Homo sapiens: one gene and its partners. The protein of the gene in region 1 purifies or fractionates together with the protein of each later gene. This does not show direct contact. Each region holds a gene or a part of one and is shown in the gene's direction. Other genes may lie near its edges. The genes, in order: MID1IP1, MID1, KLHL25 and ACACB.

Region 1 (7,171 bases):
CAACTAGCTTGTTTTTCAACTGTTCTGCATAATTTTATCTGGTATATAGTATGCTTATTAAATCTGCAGATGAATGCATCTTGTCAAGGAAAATTTTCTATGTTACAACTGAATTTCTTCTATTTCACATGTTGAGGTCTCTTTGGAAACATCAGTTAAGCTTATATTGTGTGTGTGTGTGTGTGTGTGTGTGTGTGTGTGTGTGTGTGTATGTGTGTGTGTGTTTTGAGACGGGGTCTCACTCTGTTGCCCAGGCTGGAGTGCAGTGGCATGATCTCGGCTCACTGCAACTTCCGCCCCCTGGGTTCAAGTGATTCTCCTGCCTCAGCCTCCCAAGTAGCTGGGATTACAGGCATGCACAACCATGCCCAGCTAAATTTTTTTGTATTTTTAGTAGAGATGGGGTTTCACTATGTTGGCCAGGCTGGTCTCAAACTCCTGACCTCAAGTGATCTACCCACCTCAGCCTCCCAAAGTGCTGGGATTACAGGTGTGAGCCACTGCGCCTGGCCTATATTATGTTGTCTTTGTCTTCTCTATCCAACATTTCCTCTCCATTTTCTTTCACTCTTTTGTGTCTTTTCATTGGGATTACCTGAACCTTTTGCCCTATGCCAGTAACTGAATTTTCTGGCATGCCTGTTTTGTTCCTTGTTTGGAATTACATTTATTGACTCTCTAGTGATGTGTTTGGTTCAAATTTTGTTTCTTTTGCTCTGCAATATCCTTTTTCAAATCTTCCTAATTGTTTATTATTTTTCTATTCTTATCAAGGTCTTCTATAGCTGGAAGGACTTGTAGGTTGTATTTGCTTCTAGATTTACATCTTTTGTGTACTAACTCTGTCCAGACTGTCTAATATGATGTAGGTGAATTCGCCTTGACTTCATTGTACCTTGTCTAGGTCTAGTTTTTTTATTATTAAGGTTGGAAGAGTAAATTATGGAAGACTTGGGCGTGTAACTGTTGAACCCGTCCATTGGATAATGTATTTATGACACTGTAGCTTCAACAAAATGAAGCTACAACCCATATGTATATGTATATATGTGGATTTGTAATTAGGACTTGAACATATGAAATATTGATAATTATGTGTTTTCTCCCTAATTTGGTGTTATAATTTGTAAACTTTGAATCTAATTTCAGAATTTAAACTAACCAAGCTGACACATTTTAACAGGATAGAGTGAAGAAAGAACATTCTCATTCTTCCTTCTATGCTGATGGTACAAGAAAGTCCTGGAATCCTAAGGATCTAGGAAAAATCAACTTGAGAAGTTTCTATGTGGTAAGAAAAGCTATGATGTGTCTTGCCCTTTTCTCATCTACCATATTGAAATTGAATGTACAGTTCTGTATACGGTTCAGAGTTCTTAAAGATGTAGAAATGATGAGAACATAACAAAAGGTATTCTTTAGTATTCTCAACTTTCCCTGTGCTCTACTTCTTCCAAACGCAAGGCTAAAGACGCTTTAAAAAATGAGATTGTGACAAAATGCTAACTACGACATATTCAGACATTCCAAAACCTGAAAGTGGATCTGAAGCCAGCAGATTCACTACTCACTGTTCTTAGGTTTTGGCATTTTTCTGTCTACCTTCTCTCAACTAAACCTTCATGACGGTTTTTCCTGTAAGGACAATTACAATAAGATACACTCCCTTCCCCATCTTAACTCAGATTATTATGATGCTATTTCTGCATTTTTGTATCATGTGATGGTGGTTTCTTTGTGGTATATGACAAAAATGCCCTTCTTCTTGACTCCACAGGAAGAAAACTGGCTATTAGCTTGGGACTTCAGCAAGGCACTTAGCAAGGTCTCTCATAATATCCTGTGGTCAAGAAGAAAAATATAGGCTGGATGACTGTACAATTAACATGATTCATAGCTGGCTGGAACAACTTATGCCAAAAAGTGCCAATTAATGGACGGATATCAAACTGAAGGAGCTCTCCAGATGTTCTACAGCAATTTGCCTCTTGCCCAGTGGTGCCTGGTACCTATTATCAATAACTTGGATAAATATATAGAATAGTTATCAAATATATGGGTAAGATCCAAGTGCATTACAGCACAGAATCAGGACCCAAAATAATAAAACAGGCTGAACTAATGGGCCAAATCCAATGAGATAAAGTTTAAGTAGGATAATATAAAGTTCTGTACTTTGGTCCAAAAAATCCCCACTACTCAAGTATAGGGTACACAAAATTTTGTTATATAGATGGCAGCATATAGATGTAGCTGTTAAAATAAGTCCATTAAATGTTAGGCAGCATTATAAGCAGTAGCTATCTATTGAGTAGTAGAAAGAACATTGGATTTGGCATTAGAAAACTGGGTCAAATCCCAGTTCTGACAGTTTGGCCCTTAAACTCTTTGATCCTTGCTTTCTTCTCAGGGTGGTTGTGAAGTTAAAATGAGTTAACATGTCTTTTGAGTTAACAAGTCTAATTTCCAAGCACTTGTGCTCAATAAATATGACCTAGAAAAATTACCATTCACAATAATATAAGTGGCTGTGCCACTCCATTTTGTCCTAGAAAAGATGGTACTTGGAATGAGAGGGGCCACACTCAAAAGCAAACCAGAGCTACTTCTAAAGTTAGTGACTAGGATGGATGAGCGACTCAAAAGAGAACATGAAGAATGGCTACAGGAACTGGGGATAACTGACTTGAAGAACAGTAGACTTAAGGAGACCATATCTACCTTCAAACATCTGATGGTGTGCTTCATGGCCTTCTGTAGAGCTCCAAAAGATAGAAGAACACTGGAGAACGGAAAATAGAAGAATGTAGGCAAGGGCGACCACTTGGTGGGGATGTTGTGAGCGATTTCAGCACAAGTGGATGGTTGGACTACATGGCCTTTAACACGAGAGTCTGACTGTCATATTTCTAGGACATTTTTCATGAAATGGATCCTTCTAAGTCTGTCTCAAAATAATCCAGGATCTCTGCTATCTTGGGTTGGGCTGGCTTCTTGCCTTAAAATATCATCTTTCTTCCAGTTCTAGGCCAGATCTCTTCTTTATCCAGTCTGACTTTCTTGCACCAGTTTACTCTTGCTGACTACTTTGTTCAGGAATTTCTGGTCACTTTTAAAATGTCATTCCCCCCCCCCAAAAAAAAACTATCCAAGGGACACAGTACAAGGATAATTTGTGGACATTTTTGGGGAGATGAGCCAGCAAAGCATGCTTTCCAGGTTGCTTAATTAAAAGAGTGGGAATTAAGAACCAGAATTTAAGAGTTCCGGCAGGGCGCTGGTGGCTTACGCCTGTAATCCCAGCACTTTGGGAGGCCGAGGCGGGCGGATCAAGAGGTCAAGAGATCGAGACCATCCTGGCCAACATGGTGAAACCCCGTCTCTACTAAAAATATAAAAATTAGCTGGGCGTGGTGGTGCGCGCCTGTAGTCCAAGCTACTGGAGAGGCTGAGGCAGGAGAATCACTTGAACCCGGGAGGCAGAGGTTGAAGTGAGCCGAGATTGCTCCACTGCACTCCAGCCTGGCGACAGTGCGAGACTCCGTCTCAAAAAAAAACAAAACAAAAAAAAAGAGATCCAGAATTCCAGAATTGCAACTGTGAACCAAGAAGTGGGGATGGGTACCTCAGACAAGGCTTTTACCGGAAATTTAGCATATAGGATAGAAAGCAGAGACCAAAGACCTCTTGCTTTGAGGCTGTTGGCGTGCTACAAGGACTCGAAAGTTATTTGTTCAACGGATGACTTCTGTTTTCTGGAGGCAAACTGAATTCCGGGCAGGTGGCTCAGCACCTCCAGCCTGTTCCAGATCGGGACAGGGAAGGTGCCTGGGGCAATCAGTGAGGTTTCCAACCTTCCTTAGGCCTGGGCCAGCCCGCTCCCCTCCCATGTGACCCCAGGCAACCATTTTAATTTTTTTACAGCCAAGCGTAGTGGAGAACTGGCTGCGCGCCGGTTGCCAGGGACGCGGCAGCCAGCTTGGCGGGGCTGGGGTGAAAGAGGACGCTGCGTGGGGGAGGGCTCCGCGGCTTCTGACTGGCTGGAGCATCAGGATTCATTTGCATAATATTTTCTGACGGCTTCTGATTGGCTGAAGCCAGAGGGGCGGTGGTGGGGTGATTCCAAGGGCCCAGAGCTCTGGCCGGCGGACCTTTTCCTTCTGGAGTTTCCCCGGCGGGTGTGAGTTGTTGCGGGGTCTGGGGGAGCTGGGAGGCCCGGTTTGGGAAGTTTTGCAGGCAGGTGCATGAGCCATCTTTCTCTGAAAGTGTTTAAGAAATGTTCAAGAACAGCGGCCAGAGTCAAGAAACTGGGGGATGAAGGGTTATCTCGAGACTAGACGGAAGGAAACGTATCAGGGGAGGGGTGGAGGCCAGAAGGAAGGAGTTAGGTAGGGGCCCTCTCCCAAGCTGGCGTTTTTGCTGGGTGGAATCCTTTTGCTAGATCCCTTGGATTTCCGTTTTCCGTGTGTTATCACACTGTTGGAACTGGGAAGAAGAGAAAAAGAGGCAAGATTTTGGCATTTAGTAAGTTAAGTCTGAATACCGAGTTTTCATCCGGGTGCATACGTACTTAAAATACCAAATGGGTCCAGGAAGGGGGACAAAGTACGCTTTAATTTATGAGAAGATCAGCTACTAGAAACTGTATATCTGTTTTTCTCGAGTTTTCTTCTTGCAGTGCTCTTTCAATCTCATTGGACATATTTTATATTATTTTCCTGCTTAAGCACTGGGGGTTGGGTGGAAGGATCTGTGGCTCATCATAGGCAATTTCCACACTTTTAAGGTTTCTGACTCTTCACATAAACACCTCTCACTATGATGAGGTCCTGTATCAAGTACAATTAATCTTTGTACTTTACAATTTACATAGTGATTTTTATTTACATTATCATATTTAAACTTAATCAAAGTCCTTGGCACGGCCCATGGAACAAGCTCCATTTTTTTGATAAAGAAACTGAGGCTAGAAAAGTTTCTATGTGTGCAGAGAAGGAAGGTGAAATTATTTTAATGCTTCAAAGTTATATAATGCTTCCTGCCTCCCTGTATTTTTCTTTCCATTGATCTTCCTTCAAAACCCTGATAGGTCTATCCCAGTTTTGCAAGTAAGAAAACATGGGCTGTGATGTAGAGCTAATACGTTTTGGGGTAGTGGGTCCTCAGACTTAGGTCTGTCTCCAAGGGTCACTGACTTTGTTTTGTTTTGTTTGTTTTTTGTCAACAGATTAGTCCTTGTGGCACCAAGTCAGAATTTCATTCAAAAGACAATTAGGAAGATGGTTTTCTATGGAAAATATTTAAGTGTAGGTCTTAATGTGAAAGAAAGAGGGAGAGAAAGAAACCCCTTTATTATGTTCTCCCTTCCTTAGGCATTTTTTGTCCCGTGGGAAAAAACTGTACTAGGGACAGAGACCTCTGTTAAGTTTTAGAGAAAAGGGATCTTTTTTTTTTTTATTTGAGACAGAGTCTTGCTCTGTCGCCCAGGCTGGAGTGCAGTGGCACGATCTCGGCTCACTGCAACTCCGCCTCCTGGGTTCAAGCAATTCTCCTGCTTCATCCTCCCGAGTAGCTGGGATTACAGGCGCTGGCCACCACGCCCGGCTAATTTTTGTATTTTTAGTAGAGACCGGGTTTCACCATGTTGGCCAGGCTAGTCTGGAACCCCTGACTTTGTGATCCGCCCGCCTCGGCCTCCCAAAGTGCTGGGATTACAGGCGTGAGCCACCGTTTCAGGCCGAGAAAAGGGATTTAAAATGAGAAGCTTGAATCTTATTGAACATAATTGTAGGACTGCCAGAGAGGACTGGTGGATGAGGAATATGGCAAGGGACATGAGATGGGAAAAATTAAATAGGCTGTGGTTTGGAAGTCTCAAAGTGAAATTCAAGGTGCAAGGCTCTTAAAAGTTAAATCCAGCGATTCGGTACATAGCTTAGGCCCTATTAAATGACCCAGTGCTTTAAGAACTATCTTTTGAAAGGAACACTTCACACAAGCACCCTCAAAAATAATTAGACACCTCCCCATTTCTCTGTTAAATGGTGAAAGACACCCAAGACTAGACCTAACTACTGTCACCCTCTCCTGGCCTCTTGGCAGCCAAAAGGCCACATGGCCCAGGCTCTCCAGCATCACTGTGTAGCCGACTTGGACAAAAATGGACTTCTCCCCATTGCCACTTGCAGATCTCTTCAAAGAATCAGCAGATCTGATAGTGTGCCCCTCTTCATCCCCGGCAACCACTGTTAAAGGAAAGATTGGGAAAGATCCCACCCCGCCAGGAGGGAGGCAAAAGCCTCTGACGCTCCCCTCCCCCCATAGCTGACCAAGGCCAGGGCCACTGCGGGAGCACCGCGCGTCCACGTGCACCCAGCATGCCCGGTCACCCTTTATTACGTAAGAGTCCCAGGATGGAGTTGTACCTGCTGCCGGCCCCTCTTCCCCGACGGCTAATAATAAACCCGGGTTCCTGTTTCCCGGCCGCGGCCACTCCAGATTCGGGGCTGAGGGGCTCACTCTGCAACCAAGGCACGTGCATTCTGGTCATCCCACGCGGGGAGCGCGCGCAAGGCCCGCCCAGCCCCCACATGCCAGCCCCACCCTCCAGTCGGTCCGGACGCCGACGCCTTTTTGACCCTCGCTGTGCCCGGCCCTCCTCATCTGGCCTGCCCAGGGCTTGGTGCTGGCGGGGTCCAGCTGCTCCAATCCCTCCTCCTCTGCTCTGCCCTGCCCTGCCCTGGCCTGCCCCGGCGCCCTCCCTCAGCCCGGGTATCAGGCGAGAGGCGGAGCTGGCCCGGCGCGCCCCGCCCCCGCTGTAGAAAGGGCCGGGCGAGTGTTACTCGCGGTCATCCCGGCCTGGGCCTTTTATCTCGGTGCTGCCGGGGGAGGCGGGAGGAGGAGACACCAGGGGTGGCCCTGAGCGCCGGCGACACCTTTCCTGGACTATAAATTGAGCACCTGGGATGGGTAGGGGGCCAACGCAGTCACCGCCGTCCGCAGTCACAGTCCAGCCACTGACCGCAGCAGCGCCCTTGCGTAGCAGCCGCTTGCAGCGAGAACACTGAATTGCCAACGAGCAGGAGAGTCTCAAGGCGCAAGAGGAGGTGGGTGCCCACGCCCCATCGCTGCCCCGGCCAGCTTGGTTGCTTGAGCTCAGGCTTTTCGGAGG
Region 2 (4,562 bases), about 28 Mb from region 1:
AGCCTGCCCCCCACCTCCGGCGCGTGGGCATCCTGCTGGACTATGATAACGGCTCTATCGCCTTTTATGATGCTTTGAACTCCATCCACCTCTACACCTTCGACGTCGCATTTGCGCAGCCTGTTTGCCCCACCTTCACCGTGTGGAACAAGTGTCTGACGATTATCACTGGGCTCCCTATCCCAGACCATTTGGACTGCACAGAGCAGCTGCCGTGAGCGTCTGGCCACATGGAGCTGCTTTCTGGGGAACAGTAAGGTTCAGGCCACTATTTAGGGGACTGAGAAAGCACAGGCTTCATGAGTGTAATGAAATCTCACCAGAAGTGTCCCGAAATCGGCTCAGATAGGGCTCAAAACAAGAGATTCCTCTCCTTTTACTGTGTCTTGTATTAAGTACGGGCTTTAATAATTTCTTTAATTTTTTTGTATTTAGAGGAAAATCTATAGATTATTTATAAGAGAAACATAATCAGGATTACAACTTTTAGGAATTACTTGGTTTTGCACATTAAGAGGCCCATAAGTTTATCAGCTATTTACAACCTTCATTTCATCACAATCTGTGGGCTTACAAAAAAACAAAAACTTTTGTAGTTTTGTATGTTACTCATCTTCTTACCTGATATCCCATGATGATCCCATGGTAGGTCTTCTCACCTCGATGGTGCATAACAGGATGTGTTTGAACCTAGTAGGGGAGGAAACAGGCTTTCTTACTCTGGTTTAATTTGAAGTGTTTTAATTGTGATGTCAAAAAGTTGTATCAGATCAACTAAAATGGAGAGCAAGACAGAGAATGAAAAGAGTTGATTTTGGACCTCGGACCTTGCCGTGGCTAAATCTTTACCTTCTCATAGCTGATGGGATAATGTTGGAAAGAAAGGTTCTGAATCCTTTGGCCACATTTTGCCCTGCTTCTCTCAGGGTTAAGGGTTCTGGAAGAACATTAAGAATGAGATTGCAATTGAAAATAGTCATTTTGAATCCTATTGATTATTCAAAAATTCAGGCTGATTTGTCTTTTATCAGAGGTAGGATTCTGTTTTATAGTATAGAATCTACTTTATCCTTCCTTTTAATAGTTCCTTTAGACCTGTGAAATTTCTTCACTACATTTAATAGTTCTCCTATTTCCCGCTCCCCCATATCAATTTTCCTTTTGTCTCCGGGGCTGAGTAAATAAACATGTTCTGTCACAAATAGCAGCACCACTTTGGATTGATTTTGCTCTCCAGGACATCAGCACATGGCCCTGATCAGCACTACCACATCCAAACATAAGTCACTGAAAAACACTTAATATTTATGAGTTGGTAATGACAAGGGACATTGTATAAAGTACTATTTGCTAGATTCATGCCTCAAAAGTTATTATAAACAGACCTTTATTAAACACATCTTGAAAGATGTAGAAGTCCCTCTATAGTCTAGTATAGTTTACAATAGAGTTGTAAGACCAAAAAAAAAAAAAAAAAATTCAAACTCGTTATTCAGGAACCTGCTTATAAAATGTCAGCTGGGATTCTTTGCATGCCAATCTGATGCGTTGGAATGGTCCATGAATTAAGGCTTTCTTGAGCAGTTCTTGGCCCAGAACTCTGGCATTGGTTCTAGTTTGATGAAGGGCATGACCTCTATAAATGGTTTCAATTGCTAAAATATTTACCTGGGATACTGGGTCAGCCATTTTGACTGAGCAGACTAGTGGATTTAGACATTGTTTTTAGTTATTTTGTTTTTAACCAAATCAACCAACTGCCTCCCTGAAATAAGTCAATGAACTCATTGTTTCAGCATCACGTGGCCAAAGGTCATGTGATTGCAAATCTGGATTTCAAGGGAGGCCAAGCCAGCTTCCTGGGTCCTTCCATCCTCTTCCCTAGCAGACACTCTCCTTTTTCTTAACAGATAGATTCTATATATTTACTATATTATTTATACCCAGATGAATATTTTGATAGATACCTAAGACAATTTCACATCTAAAAGATGGACGCCTCAATGGAAAAAAAACAATCTTTCTCTGGAAACCTTATAGGTTTTTCTTTTTATTACAATATAAAAGCAATGTGTGTTTGCCTTCTCTGAGTAAACTGAAAGGGTTGTCTCAGTAATTTTTACATACATTTTGGGTAACTGGATAATGGATATTTTAATGCACTTTGTACACTAACAGGTTCTAAATAAAAGGGTCTAAAACTCAGCTTCTGAGTTTTTAAAATCACGGTCTCCAGGTACCAATAAATGCTACAGTTTGCCTTATGATGTTAACATAAAACACTTAGTAGAAGGACAATATTTCCATGAAAATAATGTTTTTCAATATTAAGAAGTTACTACTCAAATTTTCACAGTAAGCCATTTAGGGTATGTTTGGCTATTTTTATAAGGACATGAGAGATTATGTCATAATTTTGTTGTGGAAGTCTCACTCTTGGCTAACTTAAAAGCATTGTGGATAGTAGCAGTTACTAGTTCCAGGTTGTCATATTTACAGGAAAATATGTATATGGTGAAAGGCCACCGTGTTTAATTACTATAATGATGTAGAAAAGATTCCCGTGTGAATTTTTTTTTTGAAAGTCTAAAAAATGTATGCTGTAAAAATTTGCTGCAGTGTAATTTTGCATTCTCTTTAAACTGATTGAGGTCACAGTATTTTATTATTTGGGGTCCTCACCACAGGAAACACTGCGATACAGGGGCAAAAGAGATGGCAGTGCCAATTAAATTAATACAACAAAATCAATGCAGCACCAACCAAGACTGCCAGGTCTGGTGTCATGGGTATGCCCAGAGCCCAGGAGTTCAGAAGGGCCCTAAGCCTGATTTAATGCTCTGCTGTTGATGTCTTGAAATTCTTAACAATTTTTGAACAAGGGGCCTGCGTTTTCACTTCGCACTGGGCCTTGCAAATTACATAGCGAGTGCTCATAAAAGAACTCAGAAACGTGGTACCTCTCTTCCTGGTGGATACAAATAAAGAAATCTGGATCCAAAGTTGAAAGTTGCTGGCGATATCATTCAAGTAGGACTCTAAATAGTGGATTAAGATGAGGGTGGGCCTGGGTGAAGATTCTTTCCAGCTTTAAAAGAAAGTGACTTCAAAAACTGACTGCAAATATTGACGATGGTTTCTGCTGGAGGAAAAGAAACAGCTTGAATACAGACAGGCTTTTTTATTACGGTACTGATATATTGACCTTAAACTTGCTGAGGAACTGAACTAACGTCCTCCAGTGACCGTGGAATTCCATCTCAGCTCCAGGAACATGCAGATACCTGCAAAGAGACACGCATATATGCTGGCATACATGTGCATTTGGTGTTGGGAAGTTGACCATCTGGTCTATCTTAATAAAATGGTAAAAAGCACACCAAGACAATGATGGGGGCAGGAGGATGTTTTTGAAAACAGCGCTTCTCAACCAGTGCTCGATTTTGCCCCCCAGGAGACATTTGGCAATGCAATGGCAACTTTTGGTTGTCGCAGCCGGGGAAGGGAAGCTACCAGCATCTAGTGCGTAGAGGTCATGGACGCCGTTAAACATCCTACAGTGCAAGCGCAGCCCCCGACCACGAAGAGTTGTCTTGCTCAAATATCAACAGTGCTGCAGTGTAGAAACTTGATCGTTGGTTTTCTTTTAATGCAAAACTCTCATAAAAACCTTTCACTTTTCCTGTCATTGATTATATGCTTGATACACCCAAAAAGAAAAGGGGAGGGGCACCAATTCACCTACACTCCAGTGGCTCCATCACCTTTAAAAATATTTATAAAATAGTTCCAAAAATCTGATATCTGAAAAGCAATCCAAGCCTGTGTAAATGGGAATCACTGATAAGTATCATCATCTGTATCAGCTTGGCTTGGACATGAAAAATTGATTCTCTTTATGTCACTCCTTGCACCTGGACAAATTCAATCCCCGGTACTTAAGTCACACTGCCAAGCCCTCGGCCCTGACTATTGTCTTGATTGCTGTTCCTTTCTGGTTCAAAATAAAATCATTTTTGTGGCACCAAGACCCTCTGTCTCTGCCTGTCTCTGTTGCCTTTTCATCATTTTGTGTTTTTGCAGTTATGATGTTGACAAATATTTATTCAACATCTACCATTTATTCATACTACTTTATGACATATAATTCATTTTCTTTTACTGTCTCTCATCCACTATTTGCCTTTCCCTATTCAAAATACAATTCTTTTGCAACACTCAAAATATTCTCCAGGGAATTTTTAAAACACAATAAAAGAAAGCCTATATAGAAGTGGAAACCCAGAACAAGGTTTGCTTGATTTCAAGTCTTATAGATGGGGTGAGGAAGAGAAGAGCAATGATTATTTGAACAGAGCACTGGGAGTCTTTACAGTGTGATCTAGGAGAATCCTAGCAGTTGGTCCATACATATATCCTCAACCCCATCCCATGGACCTGACTTTCTCTCACTAGAGATGCAAGCCTTTGGTCTTGGTCAGTGCTATGCAAAGTGTGGTCCAGGAATCTGCAGCATCTGCATCACCTGCGAGCTTGTTAGAACTGTCAGTTCTCCTGCCTCC
Region 3 (7,260 bases), on another chromosome or scaffold:
GGGATCAGTGGGTCTGGAGCAGAGCATGTCAGGGTCAGGAACAGGGAGGTGGGAGTTGAGGTGTGAGAGTGGCCCAGGCCAGACCAGGGCAGGCTTGTGGGCCGATGGTAGGACTCTGGCCTTCACTCTGAGTGAGGTGGGAGCTACTGGTGGATTTCGAGGGGTAGACAGACATAACGAAATTATCTTATAAAAAGATCCCTCTGGCTGCTGTGTTGAGAACAGATTCTATGGGAGCAGTGTGGAAGAGGGAGATGGCCTGGAGGCTGCCATAATGTCACAGAGGAGAGAAAATGACAGTGTCTCTAGACCAGCCTGGGGGTGGCAGTGGAAGTAGTAAGTACTCAGACTCAACAGGGATTTCCTGATGGATTGGACATGGGGTAGGAGAGAATGATGCCAAGTTTTATCTTACAAAAGGAAAGACTGCGTTGTCCTTTCCTGAGATGGGGAAGCCCACAGGGAGAGCAGCCATAGGAGCTCAGCGGAGACAGTTTGAGGGTAAGGTGCCCTAGACATGCACATGGAGATACCCAGTAAGCAGCTGCACCCATGGGCTTGGAGCTTATGGAGAAGGCGGGGTGGGAGCACAGAGTTGGCAGTTGCCAGTGCTTATATGAACGTAAGGCATGGGCTTGGATGAAATCACTTAGAAGGTGTAGGTAGGGAAGGGAATAGGTCTTCTTATCTCCCTATGCTCCCTACGCTCGCTTCCCGGGCGCTCCAATATTTGTAGGTCTGAGAAGTGAGGGGGAATCAGCAGAGGAGACTAAAAAGAACACCTGAGAAGGTAGAAAGGAAACCAAGAGGCCAGGCGCGGTGGCTCACGCCTGCAATCCCAGCACTTTGGGAGGCCAAGGTGGGCAGATCACCTGAAGTCGGGAGTTTGAGACCAGCCTGACCAACATGGAGAAACCCCGTCTCTACTAAAAATACAGAATTAGCCAGGCGTGATGGTGCATGCCTGGTGATCGCAGCTACTCGGGAGGCTGAGGCAGGAGAATCGCTTGAACTCGGGAGGCAGAGGTTGTGGTGAGCTGAGATTGCGCCATTGCACTCCAGCCCGGGCAACAAGAGTGAAACCCCATCTTTAAAAAAAAAAAAGAACCAAGAATTTGATCATCTATTAACGAACATATATTGAATTCTATACATCATCCCAGAATTTCTGAGACTTCAGATTCTGGGCCACCAGGAATACTAGCTAGATGGCAATGCTGGGAGGAAGGTATTGGTAAGGATTGTTGGTGGACAACAGGCATCTATTCCCTCTTCCTTGTTAACAGAACCCTGACTTTGAGGAGGTGATGTACTAACATAAAAGTCTACATTTCCCAGCTGCTCTTGCAGGTAGGAAAACTAAATTCTGTCCATAAACAAAAGTGTTGTGTGGGACTTCTGCAGTCTGCATAAATAGAGCTAACCAGGCTGGAAGACACACATCTCATGCTCTTCCGCCATTATTCCTTCCTACTGTCTGGGATATAGGTGTCAGAGTTGGAGCCCTAGCAGCCATCTTGGACTATGGGGCAACCTTGCAAATGGGAACCAAGCATTACAGATGAAGGAATAAAAATACAGTAGCCCGTGTTTCTGACAACTGTGGAGTTGCCAACAAAGGATAGCTTAACTTTAGCTTTATTTTGCATAAGCAAGAAACTTCTATCTTGTTTCAGTCACAGTTAATTTTGGGTTTTCTGTCATATGCAGTAAAAACTAATTCTAACGGATATGAGATTTATTCACAGTATTTCAAAACTGTGTAGACAACTTTGATGCAGCCCTAAGAGTTCTGAGATGAATTCATGGTCCCTGCCCTCCCAGAGCTCCCTGCACAGCAGGTGGACTAGCTAAGCAGGCCATTACAACACTGGCTGGTAAGGGCTGCGTTGACGGTAATGCTCCAGGGTCCGCAATAGATGGCAAGGCAAACTTCCGCTCTTCCTCTCATCTTCTTTCAAATCGTACCTAAATTCGATTAACTCCACACGTGTTCTTAGTCTGATTTTGTCCCATTGCTTACACTGTATTTGATTTTAATATATTCTAGTACCTAATTTAAGCCTTGGAGTTGAAGAGAGAAAAAATTATAATGTGGACCAGATTTTACTGGGCGGTTGGCACTTATAATTTTACAGCGAACCTGCATAAAATAATAAGCAACAGTTATAAACTTGCCAAGAATCAATTTTGCATGTGGAGCTTCATTCAACCAACAATTCTATAAACACTCTAGTGCTAGAAAATCGGCAGGATAAAACTACAAATGTGATCTCTGTCATTTCCTTAATGAAGTAATTACTTTGATGCTAATGTGTTGGAGCTGGTTCCTTCCGGTGGGTTGGTGGTCTCGCTGACTTCAGGAATGAAGCTGCGGACCTTCACGGTGAGTGTTACAGCTCTTAGAGGTGGCGTGAACCCAAAGAGTGAGCAGCAGAAAAATTTACCGTGGAGAGCGAAAGAACAAAGCCCCCACAGCGCCAAAGGGGACCCAAGTGGGTTGCTGCTCCTGGCTGGGGGGCGGCCAGCTTTTATTAGCTTATTTGTCCAGGCCCATGTGCTGCTGATTGGTCCATTTTACAGAGTGCTGATTGGTCCGTTTTACAAACCTCTAGCTAGCCACAGAGTGCTGATTGGTGCATTTCTACAGAGCACTAATTGGTACATTTTACAAACCTCTAGCTAGATACAGAGCGCTGATTGGTGCATTTTACAATCCTCTTGTAAGACAGAAAAGTTCTCCAAGTCCCCACTGGACCCAGAAAGTCCAGCTGGCTTCACCTCTCACTACCTTTTCTCTTCAGAAGGCACCTTAACAGTGCACTTGGCAAGCTTCTTACCTCTGGCCAATATTGTTCATAAATATCAGAACCCTGGTGCCTTAGATGTCTGCAGATCTGGGCCAAATGGAAGCACAAATCTGTACTGAGCACTTACTACATGCCAGGCCTATTCCATATGTTATCTTAATCTTTCCCATACCCCTGCAAGAAAGGTTTTAGAATCCTCTTCACCAGTAAGAACCAGACACCAGAGAGTCTGAGCCATCTGCTTCAGTCCTACCCAGCTCTTGAGGGGCAGGGCGGGGCTTCAAACCCAGAACATCAAGCTGTTTCCCAAAAATGCCTTCCCTGGTGGTATCTTCTCATCATCTCCCAGTCTTTTAACCCTGGCATATCTGTCCTGTCTAAGCAGCTTTCTACCCAGGGGCTCTATTTCCCAGGTTCCACTAGTCACAATCCTATCCCCTCTCCCAAATCTTTGTACACTTTCTTAGACCTTCCTTGCACCTCCCACCTCCACCTCCGTCAGGGTGACCTCTGCTTCCTGGGAATTTCCCCGCCCCAGGCTTGGCTCTTTCGTTCTTATCACTTTCTATGCTTTACCTTTTGTATCCTTAAGCAACCTACTTGAATTATCGATTTTCATTGGGAGGGAGAAAAGAGAGGACATTTATTGCGCACTCATTTGTCTGGGAATTTGTCTCCTTTAATCCCCCAAATAATCCGATGAGGAGTTTTTATCTGCCGCTTTACGGATGAGATTGGACACACACAGTAAGCTGAAGTAGTAGTCAGGAGGGAAAAGGACGAAGAATCACAAACCGTTCTCCCCCTCCAAGATGAGTGCATGGTGTGGGCGTCCAGGAAACGTTCCTGGAAGAAATTATTGGATGGATGGATGAATGAATGAATGAACGAACATTTAAAGGCTGGCTTACGAAAGGAGTTTAGTGAGAAATGACACAGAGAGGAGAGCTGAAATACTCCAAAAAATACAGATTTCAAGTACAGGTGGGGTTTGGAGGCTGCAGAAAGTCCCAAACATTCAAACAAGCCCAGAGTGAAAGACAGGGTTTCATTAACACTCGGGCAACTACTAGTGTGGCTCTGAAGAGTCTAAAGAGATCTACAACACTTGTGACCCGAACACAAAAGAGGCATATGCAATCTACAGTGCTCCCTCTGGAAAGCTCTAGAACACCGTCGCGTTTTGTTCCCAAACTTGGGCGGCGGGGTTGGGCAGGCGCCTGTCTCTTTAAGAATCTGGTCGAAGTCCTTTTCCTCGCCCCGCCCCGCCCCCGGTCCCCCCCCCTCCCCGCCCCCGGCCCCCCACCCCCCGGTGCCGGCGCGGCCTGGGGCCCACCCCCTTCTTTTCTGCGGCTGCACTGAAGGGTTCGGCTGCCCATCCGTCACAGAGGCGATGCCTCTGATTGGCTGCTGCTCTTCGGGCCGGGAGGCGGGGCGGGAAGGCCGGAGAAACTAGTTTGTTGGCGGCGCCTAGGCTGTATCGCAGCGAGAGCGTTTTTGCCTGTGGAGAGCCGGCCGACGGGAGCCGCGGCGGAGCCTGTTGAGCTCGCGCGGGCTGCCGGGAGTGGTCTCTGAGGCGGCGGCGGCGGCGGGGATCGTCTCCGGCAGTGAGTATCCAGGCCGGGCGGGGACGCCGTGCTCTGGCCGCAGCACCCGCGCCCCCGCTCCCTGCGCTGGGGACTCACCACCCCGGGCCGGGCCGGGACCAAGCGCTCGGAGCCCCCGCGGGACTACGTGTCCCGGGAGGGGGCCCCGCGGCTGGGGCCGGGGCCCTGGGACAATGGTGGGGAGCGGCGGCCGGCCGGCACCCCGCGGCTCCGCGAGGGAATTCGCCGAGAGCTCTGCGCGAGGGAATGAATTGTTTGGCAAATGGATGTTGCGCGCGGGAGCCGCTACTCTTTCCCCAGGGAGTGGTTGATTCATTGAGTCCGCAGACTCTTTTTTTTAAAAAATTACTATTGATCCTGGAAAGAGAGACTGCTTGTCTTTGAGGACGCGAGCGGCGATGCCCCGCGCCTTGGACGCCCAGGCCGGATGGCTGCCTGCCTGGCGCAGAGCGAGGGCCCGGGGTTCACAAGGGGAGGGTTTGCGCGGGCCTGGCCGCGGAGCCCCGAGCCGTTCACGTTCCGCCTGCCAGGGTCCCTCGTTTCGGTTTGCAGAACTGTCCAGCGGCAGAGAAAGGTCGCACTCAAAGGCACACCCACCTGTCCACCTGGGTGGCGGCCAGACTGGCAGGTCCAGAGCAAGCCCTCTAGCCTGACTCTAATTACCACACTTGCCCTGGCTCCGAGACACACCGCGCGATGTTACGCCCCCACTCCCCCTGTCTCTTTCGTAGTTGCTTTAGAAGCTTTTCTCTTGGGGGATTGTGCCCGGGAGATACCAGATACTTTTTTTGTGTTGCTGCTCTAAGCCCCCAAAGTGCATTCCCATTGTCTTTGAACAAAGAAACATCTCTCTAGAGGCCTGACCCAACGAACTGTGGGTGAGGGGGCGGACCCAGGCCCCTGCAGATTTAATCTGGACGCTCTTGGGTCCTGCTGGATCCCGGTGAATTTGACCTTGGGGAAGGCGGGCTGGACTTTGACTCTCCTCGGTAGTCAGGGCAGAGAATGCCAGGTGTCTGGACCATTTGGTTCCACTCTATCGGCCCAATAGAGAGAGGAAGGGAAGGAAGTTAGCAGTAGCACCAGGAGAGGAGGCAGGATTCCACGGTCTGTATCCTGGACCAGATTCCAGTGACCGTTATGGGGCCAAGCCCTCTGGGACCCTGGGTCCCAGTCTCCCCATTCATAGGAGGAACTGATGCTCAGTGTGCTGATCTGAGCTGTGAGGATTCCTGGCATGTTGGTGAAGGCTTGCGTGGGGGTCTGGGGAAGAGTAGGACACAAAGTCTACCCCACCTCAGGGTCCATTTGGTGTCCCAAGACCGGAGGCTCTTGGGTCCACAAGCTGTGCCTGTGAAGGTTGACGTAGTCAGTCTTTTTCCGGCCTGGCAGCTATTTCAGTTTTGAGTCATTTGTCAGGCAGTGACTCCAGGGTGGTTGATAAAAGGGAGGTAGAAATGGAAGACACCTTCATCCTGGGGTCTTGGGCTGCAGTTGGATTTATGTATGTGGTGCGGAGAGAAGAGCTATAGGCAAATTGCATGCTCCACATCGGAAGCAGGTTCTGCAGCCCGATGCCCCTTAATAGCGTTTTAAATCTGCGGGCACCCCGTGTGGGCAGAAGAGAGCAGGAAGAAAAGAGAACAATTACCCAGTGAAAGCAAGCTTGGTTCGTCCCGTCTATCACTTGGGCGGGGGCGGGGGGAAGGGTAGGATGAGTGAGAGTGTTATTTAGTGGGTGGTTTGTGACTGATTGATTGATTGATTCATTGTTTGAACAGACTTGATTGGGCACCTGCTGTGTGCCAGGCCCTGAGTTAGGTGCTGGAGACTCTTCCTTTAGTGAGCACCTAGATGAGGGAGTGCTGGCACATGGATTAGGGGCCCTGACACATCGTAGTGATAGAGGCAGCAAGAGGAGAGAAGGAGACACAGGTGGGCAAGGCTTCCTGGGGAGAGGATGCCTTGACTAAGATGAGAAAGGCATGTCATCGCCCAGATTCGAGGTGTAGGGCAGCCACCTTTGTCCTGTCGCTCACCCACACTTCTCCCAGAGGCCCAATTCATTGCCAGCCTCAAGATAGGCACAGGTTGAGGCCATGGAGAATGCAAGTGGGAGGTGGTAGAAGGTTTGCTCTCGTCCGTAGTGTCTGGCCGCACAGTCAGCAGTCCAGCGCATTTGTAGGAAGCTGGATGGCTTCTGGATGCAGCCTCTCTTCTCTGGGGGTCCTGGGAGAACCTACCCCCTGGTCCCAAAGACCAGCCCATTGTCTGAGCCCCTAGTCCCTCTGTACCACCAGGCAGTGTAGGCATAGCCTGGCCAGTGTGGGCAGAGCTGGCACAAGAAAACAGAGTGGCCAGACACAAATGAATTGGTTGATTGAGATGCTGGTTTTCATCTAATGTGGTAAATTTCATAATTTAATTGCCTCAGCCAGCCAAGGCTGTTGAAGCATTTTCCTCACCAGGAAACACTTAGTTGGAACAAGCTGGGGGTAGAGGAGGGAGGTGCAGGGGAGGAGGGAGGAGGGAGAACTTAAGCATCCACAGCTTTCAGTCACAGCATCCCAACAGGACTTATCAATCAGCAGCTATCCCCAGCTGATGGAAGTCAGCCCAGCCCCTACAGTAGGTTCCAACCCCTTTCCTTGACCACCTCATTGCCATACCAACCTAAAGCTGTCAAAAGCTGACACCTGTCATCTTCAAGGCATAATCATCCCATACTGCCTCCAGGTCCTTCTGGGGCTGTTAGAAACTGGGGAAGGGGTGCTGTGGGATTAGGTGGGGAAGCGAAGGGGTTTGGGGATAGGAAGGGCTCCCTGTTAAGTCCTTTTAACCCA
Region 4 (7,032 bases), on another chromosome or scaffold:
TACTGATGACTTCAAGTTTTTTCTCTTTCCTCTTCTCTCCCCAGGCTCTCTTTAAACTGTGGGGCTCCCCAGACAAGTATCCCAAAGACATCCTGACATACACTGAATTAGTGTTGGACTCTCAGGGCCAGCTGGTGGAGATGAACCGACTTCCTGGTGGAAATGAGGTAATAGCTCAGCGGAGCCTAACCCCTGGCTGGAGTCACCCCCTTAAAAATATTTTTGGGCCAGGTGCAGTAGCTCACACCTGTAATCCCAGTGCTTTGGGAGGCCAAGGTGGGTGGATCACTTGAGGTCAGAAGTTCAAGACCAGCCTGGGCTACATGGTGAGAACCTGTCTCTACATAAAATTTTAAAATTAGCTGTGTGTGGTGGTGTGCTCCTATAGTCCCAGCTACTCGAGAGACTGAGGCAGGAGTGATTGCTTAAGCCCAGAAAGTTGAGGCTGCAATGAGCTGTGATTGCACCACTGCACTCTGGCCTGCGCAACAGAGCAAGACCCTGTATCTAAAAAAAATAATAATAACTAAAATAAAATAAAAAGTTTTCCCCCAAAGAAACAAACTCATTTTCCTTGTGCATTCATCCCCTTGCCAGGTGGGCATGGTGGCCTTCAAAATGAGGTTTAAGACCCAGGAGTACCCGGAAGGACGGGATGTGATCGTCATCGGCAATGACATCACCTTTCGCATTGGATCCTTTGGCCCTGGAGAGGACCTTCTGTACCTGCGGGCATCCGAGATGGCCCGGGCAGAGGGCATTCCCAAAATTTACGTGGCAGCCAACAGTGGCGCCCGTATTGGCATGGCAGAGGAGATCAAACACATGTTCCACGTGGCTTGGGTGGACCCAGAAGACCCCCACAAAGTACGTCGTGAAACTGGCGGGGCAGGGTGATTCTGCTCAGCTACTACTGTATTTTCAGTGGGAGTGCTAGCACCTGCAAGAGGTGAAAAAAATCTCACTTATGTATAAAGCACAGATGTACATGTAGTGTATAAACAGGCATACAGTGTATCAGTGATACTAACATTTCACTGTGGCGGGGGGGATGGTGATGAGAAAAAAAAGATCTAAAAAGGCTCCTTAACGGGGATAATGAAAAAAGTCTATAAACCCTGAGCTGATATACACTGAGCGCTCCTGAATGCAGTGTGCACTGAGAATGCAGAGGTGATTGTGTCAACTCCCTGGCCTCATAGCGTTCTTAGAATTATGGCTCACACCTGTCATCCCAGCAACTCAGGAGGCTTGGGTGGGAGGATAGCTTGAAGCCAGGAATTCATGACCAAGCTAGGTAACCTAGGCAGCATAGCCAGACTTCGTCTCTACTAATGAAAAAACTAGGTGAGCATGATGGTGCCTGCCTGTAGTCAGCCTCAGCTACTTGGGAAGTTGAAGTGGGAGGATCACTTGGAGCCCAGGAGTTCAAGGCTGCAGTGAGCCATGATCATCATACCACTGCACTCCAGACTGGGCAACTGAGTGAGACCCCCCATCTCAAAAAAAAAGAAAAATCTTTGGGGAGTTGTATAGATACCAGCTTGCCATAAAAGGCAAGATGAATGAGGGAAGCGCACGCATTCTGTGATGTGAAATGACAGGGGACAGTCATCCTTTCCATTCAGAGCATGCATTCTCGGGGGCGATATTGCCCACTACCCCCAAGAAGACAGAAAAATAATTTTTGGGGTGGCAATAAAATAGTTTTTAACATATATACATATACAGAGTATGTAAATAGTGGTTAAACAGTGTATCTTGAAAATTAAAATTTCATGTTGGGGTGCTGGCAATAAGAAATAAAAATGAGATAGTCCTTAGAGGAGAGCTTAGCTCAAAGCAGAACTTCAGTTTATGGCTGTTATTAATACGGTATTTACATGAGATGTGTTAATGTGTCATTGACATGTTACTAACATGTTATTAACATCCATCCCTACGATGTTCACATTAAGAAAAAAAAAACAGTGGCTTTCAGTGCAGGGAACTGGATTCGTAGCCTCACTAAAGTATTTTTTAAGGGATTTAAATACCTGTACCTGACTCCCCAAGACTACACCAGAATCAGCTCCCTGAACTCCGTCCACTGTAAACACATCGAGGAAGGAGGAGAGTCCAGGTAAATAACTTATCAGGTAGCTCCTTAATTTTGCTCATGGTTAATTTCAGCTGTCTTCTTTCCTCGGGGCTTGTGGCGATATTTTCCAGTGGGGTGGTGGTGTTTGTATGATGGGAACCAATGCCTGTTGGGGGCACTGATGCCTTAAACATTTGTTAAACTCTCCAAGGTGAGTCCATCCTTGTCATTCTAAAATGAGTGACTCCTTTCACAAAAAATAGCACGTCATGTAGGGAGAATGAGATTGGATTCTCGTGAATCTCCTAGGAGCCGCAGGCTCACATTTTGTGACCAAACTGATGCAGCGGTGACTTGGCAAACTGGGAAGGTATGGGTGGGGCAGAGAGAGGTCTGTTCTTCGAGAGCATTCAAAGGCTACTATCTTTTCCAGGACAAGTTATGTTTTTCTCAGTGGGATTAACTGACTCAGGATTTCCTAGACTGGGTTTTTTGCAATGTTAGTGACAAGCTGGGGGGAAATTCCATAGTCAGATGAGTTTGGGAAACACTGGGTTAAATGAGATCTCATAAACATCTTTATTGCAGACCTTCTTAGTACCTGTAGCATGCTGTATTAGTCAGCGTTCTCCAGAGGGACAGGACTAGTAGGATATATGTATATATGAAAGGGACTTTATTAAGGAGAATTGACTCACATGATCATAAGGTGAAGTCCCATGATAGGCTGTCTGCAAGCTGAGGAGCAAGGAAGCCAGTAGTGGCTCGGTCTGAGTCTAAAAGCCTCAAAAGTAGGGAAGCCAATAGTGCAGCCTTCAGTGGCCAAAGGCCTGAGGGCCCCTGGCAAACCACTGGCGTGAGTCCAAGAGTCCAAAGGCCGAAGAACCTGGAGTCTGATGTTTGAGGGCAGGAAGCTTCCAGCATGTGAGAAAGATGAAAGCCAGAAGACTCAGCAAGGCAGCTTACTCCACCTTCTTTCACCTGCTTTTTCTAGCCGCGCTGGCAGCTGGATGACTGGATGGTGCGCACCCACATTGAGGATGGGTCTTCCTCTCCCAGTCCACTGACTCAAATGTTAATCTCCTCTAGCAACACCCTCAAAGACACACCCAGAAACAGTACTTTGCATCCTAAAGTTGACACTTAATATTAACCATCACACATGCTAAAGTGCATTGTGAATCTCTAACAGAGGCTGGCGGGACAGTGTTTCTCATTATGTGGCCCTGGAATTTTTGATTGATTGATTGTGAATGGGTTTCCTCTGTGTACCCCCATCTCTCTGTAGACCGTTGGAGGAATATGGGCCGAGGGTGATATTTCACTGAGACAGCCCCTGAACAGGCAGATATCTTTGGTTGTATAAACCAAAAAGTATCTGAGACAGGTCTCAATCAATTGAGAAGTTTATTTTGCCAAGGTTAGGGACACATCCAGAAGCAAAGAACACGGAATCATAGAAACCGTCTGTGGCGTGTACCTTTCTTCAAAGATGATTTGGAGGGCTTCAGTATTTAAAGGAGAAAAGCAGGCTGGAGGGGAAAGAGGGAAGTTCTGGTAATCACATGTTGCAGGAGAAAAGGCGCAGGCAGGGGAAGTCAGTTATGTATTCTTCCTGCGCTCAGTAAGTCAGCACTTTCTATAAGATAAGGTGGACATAGAGGAACTACCTGTGGAGATATTTCAGCTTTTATCTGTATCTATCTGCTTACTAAAGAAACAAAAGGAAAGGCAGCTTGCACAACTCAGCTTCAGCTTAAATTGTTCCTTTTGGCATTGTGAATCGTGGTCCTAGTTTTTATTTTCCTTTCACAGATGGGAGCAGTGTGATGATTTATTTATTTATTTGAGACAGAATCCCGCTCTGTCACCCAGGCTGGAGTGCAGTGGTGTAATCTTGGCTCACTGCAACCTCCACTTCCCAGGTTCAAGCGATTCTTCTGCCTCAGCTTCCCAAGTAGCTGGGATTACAGGCGTGCACCACCACGCCCAGCTAACTTTTGTATTTTTAGTAGAGATGGGGTTTCGCCATATTGGCCAGGCTGGTCTCAAACTCCTGACCTCAAGTAATCTGCCCGCCTCGTCCTCCCAAACTGCTGGGATTACAGAGCAGGGTGATGATTGTTGATGCTGCACTTGCCCTTTTAGAAATCTTAGCACTCATTTTGAGGGTTCTAGATGCCAATTTCATTTTGCCTCTGGATGCTTTGTCTGCTTCCAATCTCTCACCTTGCTGCCCAGTCAGTCCCTTCTTGGGAAATGCATCCACCTTGGATTTTTTGGGGCTAGAGCCCAGCCTTTAACCTGTGCTTGCTTTTGAAGATACATGATCACGGATATCATCGGGAAGGATGATGGCTTGGGCGTGGAGAATCTGAGGGGCTCAGGCATGATTGCTGGGGAGTCCTCTCTGGCTTACGAAGAGATCGTCACCATTAGCTTGGTGAGTCTTCTTCTATTTTCTCTTACTTTTCAACTTTCCATTATAGAAACTTTAAAATTGTCACAAAATTAGAGAGAATCAATAATAAGCCCCATGTGCCCGTCACATACCTCCTACAGTTACCACATGCCAGCCCACTGATATTTCCTCAATCTCACCCCCATCCCCTGCACCTGTTTTAGAGTATTTTAAAGCCAGCCCCCATCATGTCTTTTCATCCATAAATACGTAAGGGTAGATCTTTAACAGATAATGACTCTCACCCTCTTCCCCCGGTTTTTAAAAACATAACTGAAATACTAATATTACACCCAACAGAATCAGCAATATCATTGAAACCCAGTGTGGTTTAACAGTTATCTCAAAATACCCTTTTCTAGTGGTTTGTTTGAATCAGGGTCCAATCTCATCTTATTTTCAAGGTACTGAATGTTTAGAAGAACTTTTCTCTGACTTTAACTGGCATATAAGGAGTAGTCCCCATCCCATCCCCATGGCCTTTCCAAAAATGTTTTCTGTTTCTAGTAGTAGTACTACTGTAGTAGTAGTAGTAGTACTAGTAGTAATTCTAGTACTAGCAGTGGTGGTAGTAGTGGTGGTGGTAGTAGTAGTAGTGGTAGTAGTGTTTGTGGTGGTGAATCTGTATGGGTCTAAGGCAGAGTGAGAGACCGAGGCAAGTCTCTCAGCAGGAGTGAAAGTTTATTAAAAAGTTTTAAAGCAAGAATGAAATGAAGTACACTTGGAAGAGGGCCAAACAAGGCAACCTGAGAGATCCAAGTGCCTCATCCAACCCTTTTGAGGTTTTATGCATTGGCATGATTCCAGGGTTTGTGTTTCTTCTCCCCTGATTCTTCCCTTGGGGTGGGCTGTCTGCATGCACGTGGTCTGCCAGCACTTAGGAGGGGCCGCATGAACAGTGTGTTTACTGAAGTTGTGTGCATGCTCACTTGAGGCTTTCCTCCTTTACCAGTCGAGTGTTCCTAGAAGAAGGGCACGGTACCAGATAAACTCTGCCATCTTACCTCTTAGCATGCATGCTTGAGCCCACCCACCCAGCTCCTGAGATCTTATGGGGAAGCTGCTTATCACTAGCTTCAGGTGTTTTCTATCTATCAGGAGATTGCCTTTCCCTGGAGCCAGCTGTGACCAATATTAATTTTAGAGAGACACTTTAGCAACTGCCTAACTATCACCTGATGGTTGCCTTCCTCTCCTGCCCTGCTCATGTCTGCTTAACTACCTACTCTAACAGCAGCAGCAGCAGGAATAATAGTACTCTTTAATGATAAACTGCCTTGGAAGGCCTTATTTGTACATGCAATGTTGAATCTTCAGTTTCCAAGTGGAAAATGTTGGTCATAAGCATCTTCCTTGGGCTTGTTTTCTAGATTATATGTATAGTCTTTTTATTTTGAAGTCATCTAGGACCCACCGTAAGTTATAAGATACTACAGAGAATTTCCAAGTACCCTTCACCCAGCTTCCCCTATGGTACTTACATAACCGTAGTACATTATCGAAACCAGGAAACTGACATTGGCACAATATTGTTAACTCAGTACAGACCTTATTTTGAATTTCACCAGTTTTTACATGCACTCCTAGGTGTCCTTTTGGTTGTTAAGAGGCTGCAATGGCCCATGAATGCCCAGGCTCAGAAGAGCTGCACACAAGCCTCTTAAAATCTGAAACATTCACTGTCTGCTGCTTGTCTTTACAGCAATCTTTGTTAACCATGTTATTTCCAGATAGGAATCCAAGCTCAATAAAGTGGCCTGAAGAATAGGCTTTTGCCTCTACTGTGGTTTGGCTCCAAATCGGGTTGCCATTGGTCAAAACATAACTTCCATTTGGTCCCAGCAGGTTCCTGGACTCTTCCCTGCTGTGGGGGGTGGGTCCCTCGCCACTCTCCAGAATTCAGAGGGGGTCCTCTCTCCACAGGTGACCTGCCGAGCCATTGGGATTGGGGCCTACTTGGTGAGGCTGGGCCAGCGAGTGATCCAGGTGGAGAATTCCCACATCATCCTCACAGGAGCAAGTGCTCTCAACAAGGTGACCAAAAAGGGGCCTGTGCAGAGTGGATCCTTGGGGGCCAGGAGTCATTTTAACATTCCCATTGGTCTCTGGTGGGGGATTTTTCTCAATATGAAGCCAGTTTCATTCCTACTGATACAAGAGCTCTTTTTTTCCAATTTGCAGCTATCTGGGTCCTTATGAGAAAAAAAAAATTAGTTTTAGGCAATTCTGGTCGATCTAACTCCCTGTATTACTGACATTTTAAAACAAATTATTGAAGTGCCATTACACATTGCAGAAAATTAGAAAAGGAACCCCCCAAAAAAGTAATTTTGCAGCTTCTATCATTCTGGTATAGTTCCCTCTCATCTTCTGTCTTTATGTGGTTAATTTATAGTGAATATGCAGTTTTGTATTCTACTTTTTTCACTGTATTAAAACATTTTCCTTGTTGAAAAGTCTCTATACTTAATGTCTGCTCAAATCTCAGCCA

What was found.
Region 2: the proteins of MID1IP1 (region 1) and MID1 purify together in Homo sapiens (affinity purification with western blotting; 2 studies listed by BioGRID and IntAct, with this or other methods). This does not show direct contact.
Region 3: the proteins of MID1IP1 (region 1) and KLHL25 purify together in Homo sapiens (co-immunoprecipitation; 2 studies listed by BioGRID and IntAct, with this or other methods). This does not show direct contact.
Region 4: the proteins of MID1IP1 (region 1) and ACACB purify together in Homo sapiens (co-immunoprecipitation; 2 studies listed by BioGRID and IntAct, with this or other methods). This does not show direct contact.

The regions. Positions count from the first base shown.
Region 1 is NC_000023.11:38,797,308-38,804,478, forward strand, and holds the start of MID1IP1 (mid1-interacting protein 1), read left to right. Parts: upstream 1-4,151; 5' UTR 4,152-4,180; exon of another isoform or gene 4,181-4,485; intron 4,486-5,227; 5' UTR 5,228-7,106; intron 7,107-7,171. UniProt on the Homo sapiens protein: Plays a role in the regulation of lipogenesis in liver. Up-regulates ACACA enzyme activity. Required for efficient lipid biosynthesis, including triacylglycerol, diacylglycerol and phospholipid. Involved in stabilization of microtubules.
Region 2 is NC_000023.11:10,445,024-10,449,585, reverse strand, and holds the end of MID1 (E3 ubiquitin-protein ligase Midline-1), read left to right. Parts: coding exon 1-218; 3' UTR 219-4,030; downstream 4,031-4,562. UniProt on the Homo sapiens protein: Has E3 ubiquitin ligase activity towards IGBP1, promoting its monoubiquitination, which results in deprotection of the catalytic subunit of protein phosphatase PP2A, and its subsequent degradation by polyubiquitination.
Region 3 is NC_000015.10:85,791,923-85,799,182, reverse strand, and holds the start of KLHL25 (kelch-like protein 25), read left to right. Parts: upstream 1-4,257; 5' UTR 4,258-4,417; intron 4,418-4,499; exon of another isoform or gene 4,500-7,260. UniProt on the Homo sapiens protein: Substrate-specific adapter of a BCR (BTB-CUL3-RBX1) E3 ubiquitin ligase complex involved in various processes, such as translation homeostasis and lipid synthesis.
Region 4 is NC_000012.12:109,245,582-109,252,613, forward strand, and holds part of ACACB (acetyl-CoA carboxylase 2), read left to right. Parts: intron 1-44; coding exon 45-167; intron 168-597; coding exon 598-867; intron 868-2,024; coding exon 2,025-2,122; intron 2,123-4,402; coding exon 4,403-4,523; intron 4,524-6,464; coding exon 6,465-6,575; coding exon of another isoform or gene 6,576-6,740; exon of another isoform or gene 6,741-6,997; intron 6,998-7,032. UniProt on the Homo sapiens protein: Mitochondrial enzyme that catalyzes the carboxylation of acetyl-CoA to malonyl-CoA and plays a central role in fatty acid metabolism.